Homo sapiens: one gene and its partners. The protein of the gene in region 1 purifies or fractionates together with the protein of each later gene. This does not show direct contact. Each region holds a gene or a part of one and is shown in the gene's direction. Other genes may lie near its edges.

Region 1 (3,320 bases):
CAGCATCAAGGACTCTCCTAGTTCTCTGTAAAATGATCTTGTCTGTGCGTGTGTTTCTCAAACCCCTTTCCCTTTATCTTGTCATTTTTATTAGTAGTATTTCTACTCTGGAATCTGTAATGAGCACATTTCTATTGCCATAGAGGAATTTGGCTAATTTTTTTTTCTTCCTGATTTCCTTAGAAATCCTAAGTAATGCACTGAAGAGAGGAGAGATCATTGCAAAGCAGGGAGGAGGTAGGAACCGCTTAGTTTGATGTTTTGTTTTTTTAGAACAGGCTGTTATCGCTGGGGACTGTAGAGCTTAGTGGTGAGAAGTGCGGGTTCTGACACAGACTGCCCGGGGTGGGAGCAGCTCTGCCTTTTTCTAGCTGTGTGACGTTTGGCAAGTCACTGAACCTCTCTGTTTCTCATAGCACTCATTTGTAAAATGGGGGTGTAATAGTACCTGCCTCAGGGATGCTGTGGAGAGTGAATGCATGTGAAAGAGTGCTTCCGCACGTGCTGTGCACAGGCCGACCATCTTCATTGTTAGAGTACCTCTCTTTTGGGGGTTTTGTTTTCCACATTATAAATTCCTAAAAGTAAATATATTTTCCTTAGACTTGATGATAAGACTGAAAGCACACCACCCAACAAGTAATAAATGCTTGTAAAATAGATAAATGTACTCATTAGGAAAATATGAAGAAAGTATGGTCTGAAACCCCATCGCCCAGTGATGACTGCCGGAAACATTTTGTTCTGAATCTTTCATTCATACACAGCTTTATGGATACTGAGAACAAAATGTACTTTTTGAGCATTTTTGGAGACAGTCTCGCTCTGTCTCCCAGGCTGGAGTGCCGTGGTGCAGTCTCTGCTCACTGCGGCCTCAACTTCCCAGGCCTAAGCGATTCTCCCACTTTAGCCTCCCAAGTAGCTGGGACTACAGGCGTGTGCCACCTGGTTTGGCTAATTTTTTGATTTTTTTTGTAGAGATGGCATTTTGACATGTTACCCAGGCTTATCTCAAACTCCTGGCCTCAAGTGACCTGCATACCTCCAGAGTGCTGGGATGACAGATGTGAGCCACCACACCTGGCCCAAATGTACTTTTTCAGCCTGATTTTCCCTCTGAGTATCTTGGCATCTCACCTCCTGACTTCTGTGTTGGGCTGGCTCTGGAGCTCCACGCTGGTACCATTTCCTCCCATTTCTTTTTTTTTTTTTTTTTTTGAGAGACGGAGTCTCACTCTGTCGCCCAGGCTAGAGTGCAGTGGCACGATCTCGGCTCACTGTGACCTCCGTCTCCTGGGTTCAAGCGATTCTCCTGCCTCAGCCTCCCAAGTAGCTGGGACTACGGGCGCACGCCACCATACCCAGCTAATTTTTGCAATTTTAGTAGAGATGGGGTTTCACCATGTTGGCCAGGCTGGTCGCGAACTCCTGACCTTGTTCCGCCCGCCTTGGCCTCCCAAAGTACTGGGATTACAGGCATGAGCCACCACACCCAGCTGCCCCACCTCATTTCTGATGCCTTTGGGCAAAGTGCCCATTCTCGCTAGGTTCCTTATACTGTGGGGAAGTTCTGAGACGTCTCCCCTCTGAAAGTCACACATTCTTAGAGTCGGGCCTGCTTTGGCCGCTCACTGTGTGCTGTGCAGCTAGAGAAGCAGGCGCGGTGTGGCCAGTTACAGAGCCAGTTAGAGAAACTGCCCAGTTTCCTCTTGAATTGGTATCTTTGACTAGGCTGCTTGGGTCGGTCACAGGCTGGCTCTGGGCTGATGGCCACTCTCAGAGGCAAGCGACAGGGTTTCGGGGAGGAGCCCCAAACTCGGCATGTGGAAAGGGGTGGCCTTGCTGACGGAGCCAGACCCTGCTTTCCAGAGTTGCAAGCACCACGGGTGGGGGCGTCCCTTCGTTCTGCTGACTGACCCCCAGCCGCTACCAGAGCCCACTCTGCAGTGCCATCAACATCTTCTTTCCAAAGCCAGCAAGTCATTTGGTTTCCCTGACAATAGGGTCCCCAAAAGTGGCCAGCTGTGTGCATTTGTACACAGAGGATCTCTCGGTGTGTGTTTTTTTGACCTCTGCTTGATGGTGTGGCCGAAAATCCTTTCTCTGTGCCCTGGGAGCGCTGAGGAAATGCAGCCAGAGTGGCCCCCAGCAGAGCATCCTAGAGGGACAGGCTGGGAGGGGAAGGTGGGAGTGACTCCGACTTGTCTCCACATAACTCCTGTTCATTACCCTGGGTGGCCCCCCGAGTGGGGGGTGTCCATGCCTCCCCCTGGAGCATTTCTCAGTGTCTGCTGATGGAGAAACCTCAGATGTCTCAGGAATTGACGTCCATGGTTCACAAAGCTTGTCACAGACACTAGCACCTCACAGACACACATACAGGGGTGTTCTTTAGAAGTTGTGTTATGGAAATCTCAGCTGTGGCATAGAGCAGAGAGAATGCTGGGAGGCCCCCATGTGCCCACCACACAGCTGTAGCTGTTGTCAACATTTGAGGGGTGTCTTAATGGTAAATTATGGTGGGCCTTTACCCCTGATCCATGCCCATGAGCTGAAGTGGTCTGGCGTGTTGTGCACACGCACACTCAAGTTCTTGACACCCACCTGTGTTTTGTGTCCCTGTTTCAGGTGGAGGTGGAGGAAGCGTCCCTGGGATCGAGAGGATGGGTCCTGGCATTGACCGCCTCGGGGGTGCCGGCATGGAGCGCATGGGCGCGGGCCTGGGCCACGGCATGGATCGCGTGGGCTCCGAGATCGAGCGCATGGGCCTGGTCATGGACCGCATGGGCTCCGTGGAGCGCATGGGCTCCGGCATTGAGCGCATGGGCCCGCTGGGCCTCGACCACATGGCCTCCAGCATTGAGCGCATGGGCCAGACCATGGAGCGCATTGGCTCTGGCGTGGAGCGCATGGGTGCCGGCATGGGCTTCGGCCTTGAGCGCATGGCCGCTCCCATCGACCGTGTGGGCCAGACCATTGAGCGCATGGGCTCTGGCGTGGAGCGCATGGGCCCTGCCATCGAGCGCATGGGCCTGAGCATGGAGCGCATGGTGCCCGCAGGTATGGGAGCTGGCCTGGAGCGCATGGGCCCCGTGATGGATCGCATGGCCACCGGCCTGGAGCGCATGGGCGCCAACAATCTGGAGCGGATGGGCCTGGAGCGCATGGGCGCCAACAGCCTCGAGCGCATGGGCCTGGAGCGCATGGGTGCCAACAGCCTCGAGCGCATGGGCCCTGCCATGGGCCCGGCCCTGGGCGCTGGCATTGAGCGCATGGGCCTGGCCATGGGTGGCGGTGGCGGTGCCAGCTTTGACCGTGCC
Region 2 (3,500 bases), on another chromosome or scaffold:
TTTTATTTTTTGAGACAAGAGTCTCTTGTTTCCCATGTTTCCCAGGCTGGAGTGCCATGGTGCCATCTTGGTTCACTGCAACCTCCGCCTCCCGGGTTCAAGTGATTCTCCTGCCTCCCAAGTAGCTGGAATTACAGGCTCCCACCACCACACCTGGCTAATTTTTGTGTTTTTTTTAGTAGAGCTGGGGTTTCACCATGTTGGTCAGACTGGTCTCGAACTCCTGACCTCGGGATCCACCTACCTCGGCCTTCCAAAGTGCTGGGATTTAGAGGCGTGAGGCTATTGCACCTGGCCCTGGACACATTTTTTTTTAAACCATATTTTTAGAGTTGGGAGAAATGTTCTTTACTACGGGACTAGGCAGTGCGCACTGGAAATACCATGTGCCTGCAAAGTGAAAATAGAAATTGATGCGTGGATACTTAGCCATAATTGTATAGCCATCACAATCTTGTAATGAAGTCGCCTACATGCTGTAGACAGTTGACTTCCATTTTGTGTGTTTTTTAAGAGCAATTTGAGTTTTTGAGAATGGCACCATTAGTTTACATGGTTTTGGGGTTAAAAGTCTTACTACTAAAAACAGTAAATTATACTGGCCGCAGCAGAGGTGCTTGCAGTTACATTTAGCCATTATTAGGTATCCTGACTTCAGCAGTCAGTGGAGACATTGTATAAGAATAAACATCCCTTGAGTCAACACTTTATTACACACTGGTGCAGTAATTTGCAGTTATTTGTTCTATCCTTTGTTCTCTTTTTTTTTTTTTTTTTTTAAGTGACAGGGTCTAGATCTGTGGCCCAGGGCTAGAGTTCAGGGGCATGATCATAGCTGACTGTAGCCCCAAGCTCAAGAGATCTTCTCACCTCAGCCTCCCAAGTAGCTAGAACTACAGGTGTGTACTACCACACCTGGCTAATTTTTTTAAAAAATTTTGTAGAGGCAGAGTTAATCTCCCTGTGCTGCCCAGGCCGGTCTTACAATTCTTAGCCTTAAGCAATCCTGCTTCCCAAAATGCTGGGATTACAGGCATGAGCCACCATGCCCCAGTTATCCTTTGTCTTTTAAGAATTCCCTCTTTGTTACTTACAGGTTAGGTGTCAGACACCACTAGTTGAGTTAAATTGAGGGTAATATGAACTGCCAGGGAGCTATGAATATTATTGAAGGATAAGTGGTCTTAGAGAAGAGAAAATAGTTAGGATTCATTTTTCCTCTGGCCTATAAATTCTCATTGGGTTAGCACTTTAGATTAACACATTCAGATGGTATTCAAGTTATTTTAGGAGGAAGTGATAATGTTAGTGAAGAGGTTAAATTTTGTAATTTTACTTTGAGAAGCTTTCAGGATTGAGAACAGTTTGTCTTACTAATATTTTGAACAGTCCTTCCCCCTTTAAGATTTCAAAAGCAGGTCCTAATTAGTTTTGGCCACTCTTGTTAAGTGTTAAACATTCAATAACTCTCTTAGAGGGCATGGTATTTACTTTGTTAGGAAAAATTATCTTTTTTATTGCAAAATAATTACTAATTGGTAATTATTACTGATGTAGCCTGTAGTCTGCATTTTCTTTTTCATAGACTTCATTAGAGCAGTTTTAGGTTTACAGCAGAAAGCACAGAATTGCCATATGACTTCTGCCCCCTACACAGGCACAGCCTTCCTCACTACCAGTATCCTGCACTGGAATAGTACATTTGTTAAAATTGATGGACGTAGATTGATTACCTAAAGTCCATAGTTTACATGAGGTCTCACTCTAGATGTATGTTCTGTGGGTTTGGAGAAATGTATAACCGTGTTTCCATCATAGTATTATACAGAATAGTTTCACTGCCCTAAAAATCCTCTGTCCTGTGCTTAGTCATCCCTCCCCATTCAACCACTGGCAGTCACTGTCTCCATAGTTTTGCCTTCTCAGAATGTTACATAGTTGGAACCATACATTATGTAACCTTCACATTGGCTTCTTTCTCTTAGTAATACATATTTAAAGTTCTTCTATGTCATTTTGTGGCTTTTAACTAGTTTCTATCAGTTATAATATTCCTTCTGTATGTGCCACAATTGTCCATTCTCCCATTGAAGAACATCTTGGTTTCTTCCAATTTTTGGAAATTTTTTTGTTTTTCTTTTGAGACAGAGTCTCGCTGTGTTACCCAGGATGGAGTGCAGTGGCACGATCTCGGCTTACTGCAACCTCTGCCTCTTGGGTTCAACCATTTCTCATGCTTCAGCCTCCCGAGTAGCTGGAACCATAGTTGCGTACCATCGCACCCGGCTAATCTTTGTATTTTTGTAGAGACGGGGTGTTACTGTGTTGGCCAGGCTGGTCTCGAGCTCCTGACCTCAGGTGATCTGCCCGCCTCAGCCTCCCAAATTGCTGGGATTACGGGTGTGAGCCACTGCGTCTGGCAAATTTTTGGCAGTTACAAATAAAGCTGCTATTAACATCTCTCTCTAAGTTTTTGTGTGCATGTAAGTTTTCAACTCTGGGTAAATAAGGAGCAGGATTGCTGGGTCATATGGAAGTGTGTGTTTAGTTTTGTAAGAAATCGCCAAACTGTCTTTCAAAGGGGCTATACCCTTTTGCATTCCCACCAGCAATGAATGAGAGTTTCTATTGCTCTGCATTCTTACCTGCATTTATAGTGTGTTGGATTTTGGCCATTCTAATAGTTTTGACTTGCGGTTTCCGAATGACAGATTATATTGAGCATCTTCATGAGATTCTTTGCCATCTGTATATCTTTTTTGGCAAAGCATCTATTTCAGGTCTTTCAACATGATCCAGCAGTTCTGCTGCTTGATATTTACCCAAGGAGTTGAAAACTTTTTTTTTTTTTATATTCTGACATTCTTCTAATGGATTGTGATTTGAGTTAACTTTGTAGGGTGGGGTGGTGGTATCTTAGAAATGGAACTCTTTGGAAATAATACAGGGGGGTATTTTCTTCCCCCTAGGTAAAAGTGCTGTTTGTACGCAACCTTGCCAATACTGTAACAGAAGAGATTTTAGAAAAGGCATTTAGTCAGTTTGGGAAACTGGAACGAGTGAAGAAGTTAAAAGATTATGCGTTCATTCATTTTGATGAGCGAGATGGTGCTGTCAAGGTAAATATGGTGGAATTACAGGCATCTAAATCAGACTAACAAATTTAGTCATTTTAGAATCTCAAAATAGTTTTACAAATTGGAGGAGACTTTGGAAGTCCATGGAATCCATTCAAACTAAAACCTTTTGGTTTTAGTGATGTTGGCAGTTTTCTAAGTAAAAATGAAAAATAATTGAATATCTGCATCTTTAAATAAAATTATTTGACTGCCTGCATGGGGCTTTCTCTTGTCCTTCCCACATTAATGATAAATGATATTCCAACTTTAAATGAATCATAATTGTATGAAAGTCCTATTTTTATATTGACTTATCTAATTTTTTAAGGCTATGGAAGAAATGAATGGCAAAGACTTGGAGGGAGAAAATATTGAAATTGT
Region 3 (3,500 bases), on another chromosome or scaffold:
AATGAGACTCCGTCTCAAAAAAAAAAAATTATCTCCCCTTCTCTTCTAAATAACCTAAGGTTGAGGTTATTTGGGGGGTTTTTTTGTTGTTGTTTGTTTGTTTGTTTTTTGAGACAGTCTCACTCTGTCGCCCAGGCTGGAGTGCAGTGGCACGATCTTGGCTCACTGCAACCTCCGCCTCCCAGGTTCAAGCAATTCTCTGCCTCAGCCTCATGAGTAGCTGGGATTACAGGTGCCTGCCACCACGCCTGGCTAATTTTTGTATTTTTATTTATTTATTTTTATTTGTTTATTTATTTTTTAGACGAAGTCTCGCCCTTGTCGCCCAGGCTGGAGTGCAGTGGCACGATCTTGGCTCACTGCAACCTCCGCCTCTTGGGTTCAAGCGATTCTCCTGCCTCAGCCTCCCAAGTAGCTGGGATTACAGGCACCTGCCACCACGCCCGGCTAATTTTTTCTTTATTTTTAGTATAGACGGCGTTTCACCATCTTGGCCAGGCTGGTCTTGAACTCCTGACCTTGTGATCCACCTGCCTCAGACTCCCAAAGTGCTGGGATTACAAGTGTGAGCCACCGCGCCCAGCCAGTTATGTTTTTTTAAGTAAGCCAAACTTTTGGTTTCTTTTTCTTTTTTGAAATTAGAGATGGAGGCTCTCGCTCTGTTGCCCAGGCATATTGCAGTGGCTATTCATAGGCACACTGCAGCCTCAAACTCCTGGACTCAAGTCGTCCTTCCTCCTCAGCCTCCTGAGTTGCTGGAACTTACAGGCATACACACCACTGTACCTGGTTTTCTGTTTTATTACAAAAGTTGTGTATTTGTTGTTGAATGTTTAGGAAAGATAAAAGTTAAATCTTCATCAGGATATACAAGTTGCTGATATTTAAAGTCAAAGTGAAGTAGAATTATTTTTGTTTTGATAAACCTTTTGAGAGGGAGAGATTGTAATCCGGAAATGCTACAAAAAACAAACTTGGAAATCACTGAATTTGCACCAGAAAAGCACCTCAGACACTAAACTTAAGCCTTTATTCTGTCCTCTAGAGCAAACATCACTTCTTGCCAAGTTTTCAGTGTCTTATTCTTCTTAGAGTCTTCTTTTTGCTTCTCATTTCTAGATGTAGGAGGTAGTGTTTTTAAAGAAGTGCTAAGTGAAGATTTCTAAAAGGTTTCTGCTCGTTTTATTTAGATAACAAAAGAAAAATGGATGAGACAGATGCTTCATCAGCAGTGAAAGTGAAAAGAGCAGTCCAGAAAACATCCGATTTAATAGTGTTGGGTCTCCCATGGAAAACAACCGAACAGGACCTGAAAGAGTATTTTAGTACCTTTGGAGAAGTTCTTATGGTGCAGGTAAACTTCGATTGCATCAAACAGTTTTTCTTTACCAGTGAATGAGTATCTAGCATTTATTTATTGGTATAAATAGAGATGGGGTATCACTATGTTCCCTAGGTTCTGGCGTCAAACTCCTGGGCCCATACTGTCCTCCTGCCTCGACCCCAATGTGCTGAGCCACCATGCCCAGCCACAATCTTGTTACCTTTCTTTTTTTTTTTTTTTTTTGGAGACCAAGTCTCACTTTGCTGCCCAGGCTGGAGTGCAGTGGCACGATCTTGGCTCACTGCAACCTCCACCTCCCGGGTTTAAGTGATTTCTCCTGTCTCGGCCTCCTGTATCTGGGATTACAGGTGCCCGCCATCATGCCTGGCTAATTTTGTATTTTTAGTAGAGACAGGGTTTCACCCGTTGGCCAGGCTGTTCTTGAACTCCTGACCTCAAGTGATCCACCTGCCTTGGCCTCCCAAAGTGCTGGGATTACAGGTGTGAGCCACCGCGCCCGGCCACATTCTTGTTATTTTAATGGCACTGTCCTTTCTGTTACACAGATGATACTTCCAATATTTGTTATATTTATACATATATGTTGTACCCTATGTTATTGCCTTTGATATTGTAAAATCCTACTGTTGCATGAAGGCTTAAGGGAAGTAGGTGACAATAGCTTTTCTTTATATATTAAACTAATGGGAGGTTTTTCCATTTCATTTAAAATTTGTAAACATTAAATTTAGTTTATCTTTGAATTCATTCTAAGACATTCTGTTAAAATCCTGTTGTGGTGGCTCATGCCTGTAATCCCAGCATTTTGGGAGGCTGAGGTGGGAGGGTTGCTTGAGGCCAGGAGTTCAAGGCCACCTTGGCGAACATATCCAGACTCAGTTTCTCTTTTTTCTTTTTTTTTTGAGACGGAGTCTTGCTCTGTCACCCAGGCTGGAGTGCAGTGGCATGATCTCGGCTCACTGCAAGCTCCGCTTCCCGGGTTCATGCCATTCTCCTGCCTCAGCCTCCCAAGTAGCTGGGACTACAGGTGCCTGCCACCACGCCTGGCTAATTTTTTGTATTTTTAGTAGAGATGGGGTTTCACCGTGTTAGGCAGGATGGTCTCGATCTCCTGACCTCATGATCTGCCCGCCTCCGCCTCCCAAAGTGCTGGGATTACAGGCGTGAGCTACTGTGCCTGGCCTCTCTTTTTTTCTTTTCTTTTTGGAGACAGGGTCTGGCTCTGTCAGTCAGGCTCTAGAGTGCAGTGGTGCAATGTAGGCTCGCTGCAACCTCCACCTCCTGGGTTCAAGCTATTCTTGTGCCTCAGCCTCCCAAGTAGCTGGGACTACAGGTGCATGCCACTACACCTGGCTAATCTTTGTATTTTTTGTAGAGACAGGGTTTTGCTGTGTTGCCCAGGCTGGTCCTGAACTCCTGTGCTCAAGCGATCCACCCTCCTCAGCATCCCAAAGCACTGGGAATACAGGTGTGAGCCACCGCGCCTGGCCCCATCTCTCTTTTTTAAAAAACTCAAAAACATTTCTGTTGTATAAGTGAGTTTTGCTCTGTTGTTAACACAGTATGGATTCAATATTAACCTCCTTGTTTTTACTGTTAAGACTAACTTGGTTTAAGTTTTAAGCCACTGCATCCAGTTGAAACCATTCAAATTGTTTTCTAAGGAACTATGATTTGGGAATGGAGTGTGTGAGTATGTGCACTTTTAGAGTAAACTTGTATCATCCTTTCTAGGTCAAGAAAGATCTTAAGACTGGTCATTCAAAGGGGTTTGGCTTTGTTCGTTTTACGGAATATGAAACACAAGTGAAAGTAATGTCACAGCGACATATGATAGATGGACGATGGTGTGACTGCAAACTTCCTAATTCTAAGGTACTTGCGTCTGTGCTTTGGGAATTTTTGCCAACAAACTTCCTTAGAGGATTGTAAGATAAAATGTTAAACACACTTAGAAAAGATAGCGGCAGGGTGTGTTCATGAAATCCTTTTGTCTTGTTGAAGTCTTTGGCCCTTAGTGCATGCTGAATATTTTATGCTTGTTTGAAATATTTAGTTTATTACTTCTCCAAACTAAACCTTTGTTCATTTTGTTCTTCCTTTTCGCTATGGATGGAAAAGAGAAAAGGTTATTTGTCAAGTTAATAGTTTCTTA
Region 4 (3,500 bases), on another chromosome or scaffold:
TTTTTTTTTTTTTCTCTCTGTCAGCCAGGCTGGAGTGCAATGGCGTGATTGCGGCTCACTGCAACCTCTGCCTCCCGGGTTCAAGCGATTCTCCTGCCTCAGCCTCCCAAGTAGCCAGGGTTATAGGTGTGCACCACCATGTCTGGCTAATTTTTTGTATTTTTAGTAGAGATAGTTTTCACCATGTTGGCCAGGCTGGTCTCAAACTCCTGACCTCAGGTGATCCAGCCACCCACCTCAGCCTCCCAAAGCACTGGGATTATAAGCGTGAGCCGCCACACCCGGCCTTCTTTGATGCTTTTGCTAGCCCCTTACAGTCGACACCTTGGGCAGCTTTTTACCATGAGCCTGCAATTGGAATAAGATTTTCCTCTTATGTCCTCACAGAAATACCTTGTACTTTTCTTTCATAATGCCCATCAGTTTGTAACCACATACATGTGTGGATAATGATTGTTTACTGTATCTCTCCCCTGCTAGAATGTATCTGTTTTGCTCACCCCTGCTCTTGGCACGCAGCAAGTACTCAGTAAATTTTTGTGGAATAGGCTGGATGTGGTGGCTCACACCTGTAATCCTAGCACTTTGGAAGGCTGAGGCAGGAGGATTGCTTGAGCTCAGGAGTTCAAGACCAGCCTAGACAACATGAAAAAACCCCGTCTCTACAAAAATACAAAAATTAGTTGGGCATGTTAGTGTGTGCCTGTAGTCCCAGCTACTTGGGGGGCTGACGCAGAAGGATCACTGGAACCTTGGAAGTTCGAGGCTGCAGTGAGCCAAGATTGTGCCACTGCACTCCAGCCTGGTAACAAAGTGAGATCCTGTCTCAAAAAAAAAAAAAAAAAAAAAATTAGGGAATGCTCTGCCTAAGTTTCACTGCTGCTTATTGGACATTGCTTCAGGTACCACATCGAGGTGAACCGTGTTCCTGCTGGCAACTGGGTTCTGATTGAAGGTGTTGATCAACCAATTGTGAAGACAGCAACCATAACCGAACCCCGAGGCAATGAGGAGGTAGAGTTTCTGAAGAGACCAACTGGGTTGGCTTAAGCTAGATGGTCCCAGGGACACACATGAGCACAAACGGGACTAATCCACAGTCATTGCCATGTCCTGGTTTCAGGCTTAGCCTTCTAGATATGACCCTGCTGGATTCTCCCTGTACTCAGTTCAGATGCGAGGAATTAGGACGGGTGCCTTTTATTATTTTCCTCCTCTCTTTGTTCTGCCAGAATACCTGGGAAGAAATGGCCCTTCAGGTTACCCCCACTCAGCACCAGGCTCCTGGTTGGGGAATACATAGTCTGATCCTAAGCAAGTCCTCTTCTCTTCTCATACCTCTGCACTTTCTGTGCCTGCTCATGCCAGTTGCCCTCAGTCCTTTGTGCTTTGGATCTCAGGCTCAGATTTTCCGACCCTTGAAGTTCAATACCACATCTGTTATCAAGATTGCTGTGGAGCCAGTCAACCCCTCAGAGCTGCCCAAGATGCTTGATGGCCTGCGCAAGGTCAACAAGAGCTATCCATCCCTCACCACCAAGGTATGCCCATGGCCTGCAGCAGCCGCCAAGCCCCACTATCCCCAGCTGAATGGGCAGAGCTGCACACCGCTTCCCATCCATCAGGTGTTCATGATCTGCTGCTTACAGGAAGCTGTGTCAGGAGCAAGCCCAGCCTATGGCTGTCATGTCAAGGCAGGACAAGACACGTGTGTGTGTGTATGTGTGTGTGTTAAAACAAGACCTGTGTAGGAGGGGGCAGTGATGGGGGGTATAGGACAAGGTTGTGTGTGTGTGTGTGTGTGCGTATTTGTGTTCCGCAGATGTCTTTATCTAGACAAAAATACATTTCTTAATGAGTATACTTTGAATTGATTTTCTCGAGAAGAGAAGGAAAAGTGAGTTGTTACTCTGATCCTTGTACACTATGAGCCTGCCAGTGTACCTTTCCAGGTAGCAGGCCAGGAGGGCTAAAGGGCTAGCTTATGTCCATGGGTATAGGGTAGAGTTTGACCTAAATCATTAAGATGGGAATTAAATCATTGACTTCACACCTAGTATCACCATGCTGAGTGGTCCTGGTGTCTTGAGGACCCACTCATAGGCAGATGCTCCTCACTGAACCTTCTTGAAGAGGCTGGAACAGATGCTAAGTAGTAGCTGTTTCTGATAGGCAACTTCTTGTCTGCTCTGGCCTTGATTTTGTTTGTGTGTGCCTTTGCTGGCATAAGAGAATCCAGGCTGTGACTGCCTGTTGTGTTTCAGGTGGAGGAGTCTGGCGAGCATGTGATCCTGGGCACTGGGGAGCTCTACCTGGACTGTGTGATGCATGATTTGCGGAAGATGTACTCAGAGATAGACATCAAGGTACAGCAGTATCTGCCGGGAGCTGGGTTCACGGTCCAGACTTTTCACAAGTGACCAAATCCTTGAATTCCTGGGAAGCTCCAAGGGAAGAGAGAGTACATGTGTTTGTGAAAACCATGATCTGTTGCTCCTTATATGGGAAGGTTTTTGAGAACTGGTTTGCCCCCTTCTGCTGTGTCATACGTTTAAAATCAAGGCTCAGCCGTGCTTGGTGGCTCACTCCCAGCACTTTGGGAGGCCGAGGTGGGAGGATTGCTTGTAGCCAGGAATTCAAGACCAACCTGAGCAACAAAGTGAGACACTGCCTCTACAAAAATTAAAATAAAAAAAATAGCCAGGCCGGGCATGGTGGTCCGTTGCTGTAATTGCAGCACTTTGGGAGACTGAGGTGAGAGGATTGCTTGAGCCCAGTTTGAGACCAATCTGGGCAACATAGTGAAACCTCGTCTCTACAAACCAGCCCAGTGCAGTGGCATGTACCTGTAGTCCAGCTACTGGGGGGCTTAGGTGGGAGGATCACCTGAACCTAGACTGTCAAGGCTGCAATGAACTGTGATTGTGCCATTGCTCTCCAACCTGAGCCTAGGAGGTCATGGCTGCAATGAGCAATCATTGTGCCATTGCTCTCCTTTTTGAGATGGAGTCATACCCTGTCTCAAAAAACTAAAAAATAAAAATTAGTCAGGTGTGGTGGCTTGCACCTATAGTCCCAGCTACTCCGCAGGCTGAAGCAGGAGGATTGCTTGAGCCCAGCAGTTCGAGGCTGCAGTGAGCTACGATCATGCCACTGCACCCTAGCATGGGTGACAGAGCAAGACCCTGTCTCAAAAAATAAATGCATTGAAAAATAATAAAACAGGCCGAGCACGGTGGCTCACGCCTGTAACCCCAACACTTTGAAAGTCCAAGGCGGTTGGATTGCTTGAGGTCAGGAGTTCAAGACCAGCCTGACCAACATGGTGAAACTCTGTCTCTACTAAAAATACAAAAATTAGCCAGACATGGTGGCGGGCACCTGTAATCCCAGCTACTCAGGAGGCTGAGACAGGATAATTGTTTGAAACCGGGTGGCAGAGGTTGCAGTGAGCCAAGATCGCACCATTGCACTCCAGCCTGGGTGATAGGGCGAGACTC
Region 5 (3,500 bases), on another chromosome or scaffold:
CACCACACACCCAGCTAATTTTTGTATTTTTAGTATTTTAGTAGAGATGGGGTTTCGCCACGTTGGCCAGGCTTGTCTTGAACTCCTGGCCGTAAGTGATCCACCACGCTGGCCTCCCAAAGTGCTGGGATTACAGGTGTGAGCCACTGCACCCGCTCTGTTTGTTTTTTAATAATAGTTCCCATTTCTTAAACGCTTAAGTACCAGGATAGAGCTAAGCACTTTACAGACACTTCCCCTCAATACTCAAAACAGTCATGAACCCTGTCTGGTGGATAATGACATTGAGGCTCAGACAAACCTTGTTAGCTGGGAAGCTGAGTTGGGAATCCAGGTCTTCCGACCCTGCAGGTCATATTCTTTTCCCTTGGGGTGTGCAGAGTATTTTCACTAAAGTTCTTCAGTTTAGCTCCAGACTCACCAAGAGACAAGATAGAGATTGTTTTAAAGAAAAGAAACCTAATCTTGCAAAGGGGGGTGACTTGTACAACCTCACAAGGGGTTATCAGTGGTGAATCAGGCCAGAATCCAGGAGCCCAGATGCACAGGTGACATTGTCTGGACAGGCCTAGGGATAGCAGAGCATAGTTCTTGATTGGCTCCGAGCTCCCTAGGCATAATGACCACCTCCTGTTTTGTAGGGTCCAGTGTCCATCAAAGTCCAGGTGCCCAACATGCAGGATAAGACGGAATGGAAACTGAATGGGCAGGTGCTGGTCTTCACCCTCCCACTCACGGACCAGGTATGGGTACTGCCAGAAACTGGCATCAGGTGCATGGGAACCAAGCATTCAGGGGAAAGCTTCCTCTAGCTGGCCTTACCAAGGAGTTGAATGACCGCTGCTTGATCCCACAGGTCTCTGTCATTAAGGTGAAGATTCATGAAGCCACAGGCATGCCTGCAGGGAAACAGAAGCTACAGTATGAGGTGAGTCAGTTTGTCCACAGACCTGTCCCTTGGGTCCTGACACCTCTGCTTTCACAGAAGCTAAATCTGTCATGGAAGCTAAAAGGGGAGTGGAGTGATATCTGGGTGTGGCCATCTGAATCCATCCTAGAAGTCATGATGCTGGCTGGGAGTGTTGGGGCAGGTGTGCCCAACAATGCAAGGCTCTGGTGGGGTCACAGTAGAGTCTTGTGTGGGATCTGTAAGATTCTTTGCCTCAATGACTGGGCATAGAGATTTAGTGACAAGACTTAGGCATGCTCTGGTGGGTTCCTGATCCAGTGGTTGGGCCATCCCTGCCAGTATGACCTCAGGCAGCCTGACTTGGAGGTGATAGTCTAGCCCCGCCTGATGCCAGGTCACATGGAGGCATTAATGTTCTTCTTCTCTGAACTTGAACAAATCCCTGCTCTGGGCCTCAGTTATCTCTATCCATTGAGGCTGTTGGGCTAAGTGATCCCTAAAGGTCTTGTGATTTCAGAGTCAGAGCTCCATGGAGTTGGTGAGGGGCCAACTTTTTGGGGAGTTGAGCTTTTGAGTCAAATGTTGACAAAGGGGAGGAGCGTAATTGGTGGGAAGAAAGGAAACAGTGGGAGGAATGAGAGGCCTCCAGTCCCCAACACCCTACCTTCTCACAAGCTCCTGTATTTGCTAAGTCCAGAGCGCAAACAGACCAAGTGCACAGTTGTAAGGTTGCAGCGGTATCCCCAAGGCTGGGTTGCCCCATGCTAAGGCACGCTGTCTGTTTTCCAGGGTATCTTCATCAAAGATTCCAACTCACTGGCTTACTACAACATGGCCAATGGCGCAGTCATCCACCTGGCCCTCAAGGAGAGAGGCGGGAGGAAGAAGTAGACAAGAGGAACCTGCTGTCAAGTCCCTGCCATTTTGCCTCTCCTGTCTCCCACCCCCTGCCCCAGACCCAGGAGCCCCCCTGAGGCTTTGCCTTGCCTGCATATTTGTTTCGCTCTTACTCAGTTTGGGAATTCAAATTGTCCTGCAGAGGTTCATTCCCCTGACCCTTTCCCCACATTGGTAAGAGTAGCTGGGTTTTCTAAGCCACTCTCTGGAATCTCTTTGTGTTAGGGTCTCGATTTGAGGACATTCATTTCTTCAGCAGCCCATTAGCAACTGAGAGCCCAGGGATGTCCTACAGGATAGTTTCATAGTGACAGGTGGCACTTGGCTAATAGAATATGGCTGATATTGTCATTAATCATTTTGTACCTTGACATGGGTTGTCTAATAAAACTCGGACCCTTCTTGTGAAATCAGTTAAATAAGACTTGTCTCGGTCACCTGTGCCCTGTCCAGACTCGAGGCAGTGGTAACACTGCACAGTGCTATGTGGCTTCTCTTTGAGGATTTTTGGGTTTTGTAACTAAATTCTTGCTGCCCTCATACTTTTTATGTATTAGAATCATATTCGTATTGCCCTTTTAAAACATTGGGATCCTCCAAAGGCCTGCCCCATGTATTTAACAGTAATACAGGAAGCATGGCAGGCACCATGCAAACCAAGGATGGATGGTGCAGTCCCTGTGTCAGTGGGCGGTGGTTTCCTGCTGGCCTGGAATCACTCATCACCTGATTGATTGGCTCTGTGGTCCTGGGCAGGTGCCTCATAGGTGTGTGGATATGATGACGTTTCTTTAAAATGTATGTATTTAACAAATACTTAATTGTATTAAGGTCATGTACCAAGGATTTGATAAAGTTTAAATAATTTACTCTCTACTTTTATCCATTTTATCCATTTTAACTCATGTAATCCTCATGTGAGTATTCCTGTTTAACACTTGAGTAAACTGAGGCACAGAGAACATAAGTTGCATGCCATAGTCACACACTGTGAAAGTGAAAAGAGAATGTGTGCAAAACACGTCACAGTCCTGGTTTCTGAGTAAAGGCAGGCTGTTATCTTTAGAATCAAGCTATCACAGGGAGATAGGCAATGCTGTGGGTGTTGGAGGAAGGTGAGAGCCTGTTGCTAACAATTTCCTGGTTTTAAAGCTAAGGCTGATTTTATTGGGAAGATCTCACATGTGTGTGGCCCCTGAGAGTTCCCAGTGCCTTTTATTTGCAGTCCTTCCATTTGGACCTCCTAGCTGCCCCATCAGGTCATCTCCAGGGCTCAGAGGGGTGAGACCATTTCCCAAGGTCACAGAACCAGCTCTCTAGTCACCACCCTGCCTCTCCCTCTCACCCAGAGTCAGTACCAGTTTTATGGCTTTATTACAAACTGCTGGGTCCCTCCCATTTTCAACTTGATTGATGGGATGTCATCCCTTATCCTGTCTGACATTTGCCTCTGGCCTGGTTGCTAGAAGTTTGCCCCAGGGGCAAGAGTTGAAATTTGGCTTCCTGAGGTGGGCTTTGTGGTTTGCGTCCCTAAAGTGAGCCCACTACTGGTTGCTTGTCCATGGCCAACACCAGAAATCCCCTGAGCACTACCTGGGTCTCATTCCAAGAAGGAAGAGGGTCAGGAGACCTGGGGAGTCTCATATTCCAAGTTCTTCTTTCTTTCTGGGAGCAGTGGGCAGTTCATGGTGTT
Region 6 (4,019 bases), on another chromosome or scaffold:
TGAGAGAGCCTGGCCCCTCCCCAGAGCCAGCTGCAGAATGGACCTGGCCAGAGAGGAAAGTAGAGATGAGTATGGTGCTGGCCTTTGCAGCCAGCAAGGCTGTGGGGTCTTTGCTGTTCCTGTCCCCCACTACCTTCTTGCCCCCCACTACCTTCTTTCTGGCTGAAACCAGGATAGAGACCCAATATTGGCTGTCCAGCCCCCAGCCCTGCTTCCCCTTTCAGGCCCCTCTGGGAACCACAGAAATCTGGGACCTAGTGTCTTGGCAACGTAATGAATGCATGCACAGCTCTGGTATCTGTTTTAAATTATCCATTAAAATAAGTACAGTTCTGGGGGAAAAAAATAAGTTGACTGGGTGCGGTAAGCAGTAGAAAGGGACTGAAGGGGGAAGGAACCCAGGCAGTGCTTGGGTCCAAAGGAAGGGGACAGGAGATGGAAGGGGCAGTGCCTGGCTCCTATTCTTGGCTTTCTTTAGGGGACTTCTTTAGGGGACTGTGGCTTGTTGCTTGGGTCTAAAAACGAATGCTTGGCTTTGAAGAGAGATAGATTGGGGCAAAAGAAAGAAAAAAAGGGACCCCCCAAACTCCTTGATCCCTGGCCCCAAACTGGGGGCATAAAGGAACTCAGGTTCCAGAACTTTGCTCCCCCCAGGGAACCCAGGCATTCCTTCTCCACCCCACTCCTGGCACACTGAGATGCAGCTCTGAATGGGCTGCCCACGTGTGGAGGGGGGTTGGGGTGACTCACTATTACTACTGGGAGGACAGGGGGAGCCAGTGGTGGAAGAAGGGTGAGTCACACTGATGGGCACCAGCCTCAGCCCTCCCCCCACTTTCCTGGCTCCCAGCCCTGCCTACCTGACCCTCTCCCTTGCTTTGCGCCCACTTCCCTCTCTTTCTCCCCGACCCTTTTGCCCACCCACTCTCCCTCCTTGGCTCTGCCCTCTAGCCCAGAAGGTCTGAGGCAATGGGGGCAAGCTTGGAGCCGACAGTGCTGAGCAGGCAGGAGCCAAGAGAGGGGAAGCTTGAGCCTCACGCAGTTAGGGGTGCGCTGGAGAGGGTGGGGCCCGACTCCGCCACACCCCAACGGTCCTTCCCCCTCCTCACCACTCCCGCCCCCACCCCCAATGGATCTGGGACTGCCCCTTTAAGAGTAGTGGCCCCTCCTCCCTTCAGAGGAGGACCTATTAGAGCCTTTGCCCCGGCGTCGGTGACTCAGTGTTCGCGGGAGCGCCGCACCTACACCAGCCAACCCAGATCCCGAGGTCCGACAGCGCCCGGCCCAGATCCCCACGCCTGCCAGGAGCAAGCCGAGAGCCAGCCGGCCGGCGCACTCCGACTCCGAGCAGTCTCTGTCCTTCGACCCGAGCCCCGCGCCCTTTCCGGGACCCCTGCCCCGCGGGCAGCGCTGCCAACCTGCCGGCCATGGAGACCCCGTCCCAGCGGCGCGCCACCCGCAGCGGGGCGCAGGCCAGCTCCACTCCGCTGTCGCCCACCCGCATCACCCGGCTGCAGGAGAAGGAGGACCTGCAGGAGCTCAATGATCGCTTGGCGGTCTACATCGACCGTGTGCGCTCGCTGGAAACGGAGAACGCAGGGCTGCGCCTTCGCATCACCGAGTCTGAAGAGGTGGTCAGCCGCGAGGTGTCCGGCATCAAGGCCGCCTACGAGGCCGAGCTCGGGGATGCCCGCAAGACCCTTGACTCAGTAGCCAAGGAGCGCGCCCGCCTGCAGCTGGAGCTGAGCAAAGTGCGTGAGGAGTTTAAGGAGCTGAAAGCGCGGTGAGTTCGCCCAGGTGGCTGCGTGCCTGGCGGGGAGTGGAGAGGGCGGCGGGCCGGCGCCCCTGGCCGGCCGCAGGAAGGGAGTGAGAGGGCCTGGAGGCCGATAACTTTGCCATAGTCTCCTCCCTCCCCGGAACTGCCCCCAGCGGGTGACTGGCAGTGTCAAGGGGAATTGTCAAGACAGGACAGAGAGGGAAGTGGTGGTCTCTGGGAGAGGGTCGGGGAGGATATAAGGAATGGTGGGGGTATCAGGGACAAGTTGGGGCTGGGGCCGGCCTGAATTCGGTCAGATTGGGATTTGCCAACTATTTGGAGCCGGGGGGAGGGGCTTGAGCAAAACAGAACTAGCCCTGCCAGCTCGAAGAACTCTGGGCACCCAGGACACATCGGAGTGGCAGAAAGGGTCCTGTTAGAACTTTGTTAGCGGGCTTGGCACTGTGCTAGCTTTGCCCAAGCTGGCTCTGAACACATGATGCCCACTAAGACATAACTCTCAAGTTGGCATCTGTCCAGCGTGTTGGAGCGAGGTCAGGAAGGCAGGGCAATCCCCCTTTTCCCTCCCAAGGGCTTGGCGGTGGCCCCCCCTCAGCATGACCTTGTCCTGGGTTCTAAGGGTTGGGAAGTTCTCCCTCACTCTGCCACTCTGCGTGTCTGGGACCTTCCTTGGGCTCTGACAGGCCCACCAAAAGAGCTCCGGGAGATGAGAGATCGGCTCCCCCGCAGCTCCCACAGCCCTTGGCCTGCTTGGCCCAGGAATGCAAGGGAGGGAGGGAGGCAGAGGGCAGAGGCTCCCAGCTCAGGAAGTTGTGTTATGCCCAGGTCTGGCCGCACTCCTCCCTTGGCCCTCTGCCTAGTGTCTTCGAGGGTTGGGGGCACTGTCCTTCCCTCCTTGGGGTGAGCCACTTTCATTTTCCCAGCGGGGCCAGGCAGTCTTTGCTCGGGCCCATCCTCTTAGCTGCTGACGTTTTGATCTTTGTCTTATTGAAGTGCTGGAATACAGTGACATTTTTGAAATCCAGCCGTTGGAAGATTCAGGCCACTCCCACTTTACCCACCCCTGCCCCACCCTACCCCACCCTACTCAACTGCACCTTCTTCTTTTCTAAAAAAGCCTTTGGGAGCTTGGAAGTATAGGCCCTCTCTTCCAGCCCCATCAAAATTTGTTTCCCTTCTTCCTGCCTTCCCTTTCTCTATGCAGACCCAGGCCAAGAGCACTAAGGGTGCTTGGAGATCCGTAAAGGGCTGTTGGCTTTGACTTCTTCTCTCTCTTTTATCATCTACTCCAAACTTCTGCTCTTCCTAGAACCCTTTGCTAGGTGTGGTTTTGTTGCCCAGGCTGGAGTGCAATGGCACAATCTCGGCTCACTGCAACCTCCGCCTCCCAGGTTCAAGTGATTCTCCTGCCTCAGCCTCCCGAATAGCTGAGATTACAGGCATGTGCCACCATGCCGGGCTAATTTTGTATTTCTAGTAGAGATGGGGTTTCTCCATGTTCGTCAGGCTAGTCTTGAACTCCCAACCTCAGGTGATCCACCCGCCTCAGCCTCCCAAAGTGCTAGGATTACAGGCATGAGCCACCACGCTGGGCCCATCACCCTTCTTTCTGAAGAGTCAATGGAAGTTGTGTGTAGGAAGACAGGCTTAACGGTTTTTTTTTGAGACAGGGTCTTACTCTGTCACCCAGACTGGAGTGAAGTGGTGCGATCTTGGCTCACCACAACCTCTGCCTCCCAGGCTCAAAAGATTCTCCTGCCTCAGCCTCCTGAGTAGCTGGGATTATAAGTGTGTGCCACCACACATGGCTATTTTTTTTTTTTTTTTTTTTTTTAATTTTTAGTAGAGATGGGGTTTCACCATGTTGGCTAGGCTGGTCTCAAACTCCTGACTTCAAATGATCCACCTGCCTCGGCCTCCCAAAGTGCTGGGATTACAGGTGTGAGCTACCATGCCCGGCCATCAACCTTTATTTTGTTTTTTTGAGACGGAGTCTTGCTTTGTTGCCCAGGCTGGAGTACAGTAGTGTGACCTCAGGTCACTGCAACCTCTGCCTCCCAGGTTCAAGCCATGCTCCTGCCTCAGCCTCCCAAGTAGCTGGGACTATAGGTGCCTGCCACCACGCCCGGCTACTTTTTATATTTTTAGTAGAGACGGGGTTTCACCATGTTGGCCAGGGTGATCTCGAACTCCTGACCTCAAGTGATCTGCCTGCCTCAGCCTCCCAAAGTGTTGGGATTAG
Region 7 (3,500 bases), on another chromosome or scaffold:
TTTTCCTTGTTCTTGTAGACATGCGTCGGGATGTCCAGGAAATTTTTCGCATGACCCCCCACGAGAAGCAGGTCATGATGTTCAGTGCTACCTTGAGCAAAGAGATCCGTCCAGTCTGCCGCAAGTTCATGCAAGATGTAAATACCCTTCTACCTTCTCTCCCTCCACTCCCCGCCCGCTGCCTCCTCCCCTTCCTCGCCCTCTTCCTCAGACTCCCTTGTCATTCAAGTGCCAAGAAGGCGGCTTGTGCCCAACTGGGAGTAATGACTCCTTGAAGAGACATACAGAAGCAGAGACAGCTAGTGTTAGGGCCTGCGCGGGTGCCAGGGAAACTCCGGAAGACTTGGTCGGGTTAATGTGAGAGCGGGTAGTGTTCGACTTTTTCATAAATCACAACATTTTTGAACCTCTTCTCCCTTTGGGGGAGGGCAGGATTTTTCTGCCCTACCACCCACCCATCCATCGTCTCTTACATGCACCCTACAGCCACGCACCCTCAAGGTGGCATCGAGCGTACAGCTGGAGCCTTCTGCTCACCAAAACTCCTACTTCCCGGTGGCAGGAGAGCAAGAGAGGGACAGACAGATGGCAGGGCATGTCCAAAAGAAGAGCATCAGCACAAATGAATCCTCCCCTTCCCCACCTCCAGGGGTGGGGGCCTTTGGCACCTCAATCCCCGATACCCTACTCCTTCCCACCCACATCTCCTTGCACCCATCTGGAACCTCGGTTGATGTGAGCCGGCAACAGAGAAGCACCGTGGCGCGGCGAGGGAATGCAGACGGCACCCAGCGGTGGATGGCGGCAGCGGAGGCCGCGGGGAAACCTGACCAGGAAGCTGAGGACCAAACCAGCCTCTTTTTCCGTTCCCGGTTTTTTTCCTGAACCCAACGCGTGCCGTGCCCCGTTTCCCCCAATATGTGTTGGGGAGGGGTGTCCTGAATGGGGTGGTAGATTTTTTTTCTTAAAAAAATTTTTTTGTTTTTTTTAATACTCAGAGGAGAGGGACATAGGAAAGGTAAAGTGGATGTAATCGGGTGGTTGTTAGGGTTTGGGGCTAGGTGGGGCCAATTGCATAAGCAGTGGAGTGTGTTCTTCCCCTCCCTGCAGTGTTCCTTCCCGTGGGATGATCACTCTTTAGCTGTATTTGGGGCTAGAATGAGATTTGAAGGAGGCCATGGAACTTCTCTTTAGAAAGCCTGCCTTGGCTGGGCCTGGTGGCTCACCTCTAATCCCAGCACTTTGGGAGGCCAAGGTGGGAGGATTGCTTGAGCCCAGGAATTTGAGACTAGCTGGGGCAGTGTAGTGAGACTTTGTCTCTACCAGAAAAACCGGGCGTGGTGGCGCATGCCTGTAGTCCCAGCTACTTGGGAAGCTGAGGCAGGAGGGTTTGCTTGAGCCCGGGACGTGGAGGTGGCAGTAAGCTGTAATTGTGCCACTGTACTCCAGCCTGGGTGATAGAGAGAGACCCTGTATCAAAACAAAACAAAAAACAAAACCTGCCTTCTGGGATTGGGCTTCTGGTTTTTTTCCCATGACACACGCATCCTTTCCTATTTTGTCCTCTGGGTCTTCATATTAACTATCTTCCCCCAGGATAGTATAAAAAGTGTTAGGAAAGTTGGGCTTTGGAGTTGTGGTAATTTCTGTCTTTGTTACTTTCCTCCCCTTCAGGGGGTTTTTTAATTTTAAAGATGAATGCAGTGAGGTATAATGGTGTGTGCCTGTAGTCCCAGCTATTCAGGAGACTGAAGCAGGAGGATCACTTGAGCCCAGGAATTTGAGGCTATAGTGTGCTATGATTGTGCCAGTGAATAGCCACTGCACTCCAGCCTGGGCAACATGGTGAGATCCTGTCCCTTAAAAGTGTATCTGCTGCTCTGAATTTGGTATTTTAACACCACTTACTGATACCTTTCCTGTAAACCTGTAGATGGTTTAATTCTTAGTCAAGAGACCAGTCTCATCTAAAACTATCCTGTTGTGGTCTGACGGCAAGTAACTCATCTTGAGTAATTTTTGTTTCTCCTTAAGTGGCATTTTGACTGTCCATTGCAGCATTCTGATCTTAAAAGACATCCACTTTGCTAATGCACACGAGATTCTCTTAGTTGAAGTAGGAGAATCAAATGGAGCAGTTGTCCTCCCCCCACCCCATGTTCTTAGAAGCACCTCTGATGGAGTTATTCTGACCTTGAGTCACTGCCTCCCATCATTTCCCAGATGTTTGGTCCTTGCTCTCCCTTTGAGAATCATCTCCCATTTTCTTTCCTCTCCCACCTCTATTTGAGGTAATGGCATCTGTGCCATTGGGTGGTTTCACTGCTCCTTGACTTCATTTGCAGTTTCTTTCCCATGATAGTTTTTAGTTGGGCAGTCTTAAAACTCATCTGATAGGAAGGAAATTAGATGTAATGTGAGAGAGACCACAGTAAAATGTGGGTATTTTTGGGAGTGGGGTGGGGTTTTCAATCTTCTCTTTCCTCCCCATCCCCCCATGGGGTGTATTGGAGATCAACTTCCTCCACCCCCCCAGGTTTAACCCCCCCACTCTGCCCTCCTCCCGTTCCCCACCCCCTTCCTCCCCCCCAGCCAATGGAGATCTTCGTGGATGATGAGACGAAGTTGACGCTGCATGGGTTGCAGCAGTACTACGTGAAACTGAAGGACAACGAGAAGAACCGGAAGCTCTTTGACCTTCTGGATGTCCTTGAGTTCAACCAGGTCAGTTAGACGTCCAGTAGGGGGATGAGCATTGGAGCACTCCAGCTGTAGCAGAAACCTGGATATTAAGTACACTTTTATTGAGGAAATCACATGTGTGATGTGGGAGAGAATAATGAGGGTATAAATATCTTAGGGGCTGAGCATGAGTAAGGTGGGAGCTGCTTTTCTATTCTATGGCTGGCACGGGTATGTCCTCAATAACCTCAAGGAAAATAAACTTCAAAAATTAAGATCCTTGGCCAGGCACGGTGGCTTATGTGTGTAATCCCAGCACTTGGGGAGGCTGAGGGAGGTGGATCACTTGAGTCCAGGAGTTTGAGACCAGTCGGGGCAACATGGCGAAACTTCATCACTACCAAAGAAGAAAAAAATTAGCCAGGTGTGGTGGTGTATGCCTGTAGTCCCAGATACTCTGGTGGCTGAGGTGAGAGGATAGCTTGAGCCCAGGAAATTGAGGCTGCAGTGAACTATGATTGCACTACTGTGCTCCAGCTTGGGCAACAGAGTGAGATCTTGTCTCCAAAAGTCCTTGAAGGATTTTAGGAAGTTGTTAAAAGTCTTGAAACGATGTTTGGGGGCATGTTAGGGTTCTTGAATGTTTAATTCCTCTAATAACTGCTTATTCAAGAGAAGCATTTCTGACTGGGTGCAGGGCAGTGGCTCATGCCCATAATCCCAGTACTTTGGGAGGCTGAGGCAGGAGCATTGCTTGAGCCCAGGACTTCAAGACCAGCCTGGGTAACATAGGGAGACGCCCGTCTCTACAAATAGTA

The links.
Region 2: the proteins of HNRNPM (region 1) and SYNCRIP fractionate together in Homo sapiens (co-fractionation; 2 studies listed by BioGRID). This does not show direct contact.
Region 3: the proteins of HNRNPM (region 1) and TARDBP purify together in Homo sapiens (affinity purification with mass spectrometry; 2 studies listed by BioGRID, with this or other methods). This does not show direct contact.
Region 4: the proteins of HNRNPM (region 1) and EFTUD2 purify together in Homo sapiens (affinity purification with mass spectrometry; 2 studies listed by BioGRID, with this or other methods). This does not show direct contact.
Region 5: the proteins of HNRNPM (region 1) and SF3A1 fractionate together in Homo sapiens (co-fractionation; 2 studies listed by BioGRID). This does not show direct contact.
Region 6: the proteins of HNRNPM (region 1) and LMNA fractionate together in Homo sapiens (co-fractionation; 3 studies listed by BioGRID, with this or other methods). This does not show direct contact.
Region 7: the proteins of HNRNPM (region 1) and DDX39B purify together in Homo sapiens (affinity purification with mass spectrometry; 4 studies listed by BioGRID, with this or other methods). This does not show direct contact.

What each region holds. Positions count from the first base shown.
Region 1 is NC_000019.10:8,482,975-8,486,294, forward strand, and holds part of HNRNPM (heterogeneous nuclear ribonucleoprotein M), read left to right. Parts: intron 1-183; coding exon 184-237; intron 238-2,628; coding exon 2,629-3,320. UniProt on the Homo sapiens protein: Pre-mRNA binding protein in vivo, binds avidly to poly(G) and poly(U) RNA homopolymers in vitro. Involved in splicing.
Region 2 is NC_000006.12:85,618,887-85,622,386, reverse strand, and holds part of SYNCRIP (heterogeneous nuclear ribonucleoprotein Q), read left to right. Parts: intron 1-2,969; coding exon 2,970-3,119; intron 3,120-3,447; coding exon 3,448-3,500. UniProt on the Homo sapiens protein: Heterogenous nuclear ribonucleoprotein (hnRNP) implicated in mRNA processing mechanisms. Component of the CRD-mediated complex that promotes MYC mRNA stability.
Region 3 is NC_000001.11:11,015,654-11,019,153, forward strand, and holds part of TARDBP (TAR DNA-binding protein 43), read left to right. Parts: intron 1-1,190; coding exon 1,191-1,354; intron 1,355-3,079; coding exon 3,080-3,220; intron 3,221-3,500. UniProt on the Homo sapiens protein: RNA-binding protein that is involved in various steps of RNA biogenesis and processing.
Region 4 is NC_000017.11:44,857,946-44,861,445, reverse strand, and holds part of EFTUD2 (116 kDa U5 small nuclear ribonucleoprotein component), read left to right. Parts: intron 1-902; coding exon 903-1,014; intron 1,015-1,400; coding exon 1,401-1,541; intron 1,542-2,264; coding exon 2,265-2,366; intron 2,367-3,500. UniProt on the Homo sapiens protein: Required for pre-mRNA splicing as component of the spliceosome, including pre-catalytic, catalytic and post-catalytic spliceosomal complexes. Component of the U5 snRNP and the U4/U6-U5 tri-snRNP complex, a building block of the spliceosome.
Region 5 is NC_000022.11:30,332,895-30,336,394, reverse strand, and holds part of SF3A1 (splicing factor 3A subunit 1), read left to right. Parts: intron 1-641; coding exon 642-743; intron 744-856; coding exon 857-928; intron 929-1,699; coding exon 1,700-1,801; 3' UTR 1,802-3,500. UniProt on the Homo sapiens protein: Component of the 17S U2 SnRNP complex of the spliceosome, a large ribonucleoprotein complex that removes introns from transcribed pre-mRNAs.
Region 6 is NC_000001.11:156,113,492-156,117,510, forward strand, and holds the start of LMNA (lamin), read left to right. Parts: upstream 1-1,219; 5' UTR 1,220-1,427; coding exon 1,428-1,783; intron 1,784-4,019.
Region 7 is NC_000006.12:31,532,004-31,535,503, reverse strand, and holds part of DDX39B (spliceosome RNA helicase DDX39B), read left to right. Parts: intron 1-18; coding exon 19-137; intron 138-2,592; coding exon 2,593-2,724; intron 2,725-3,500. UniProt on the Homo sapiens protein: Involved in nuclear export of spliced and unspliced mRNA. Component of the TREX complex which is thought to couple mRNA transcription, processing and nuclear export, and specifically associates with spliced mRNA and not with unspliced pre-mRNA.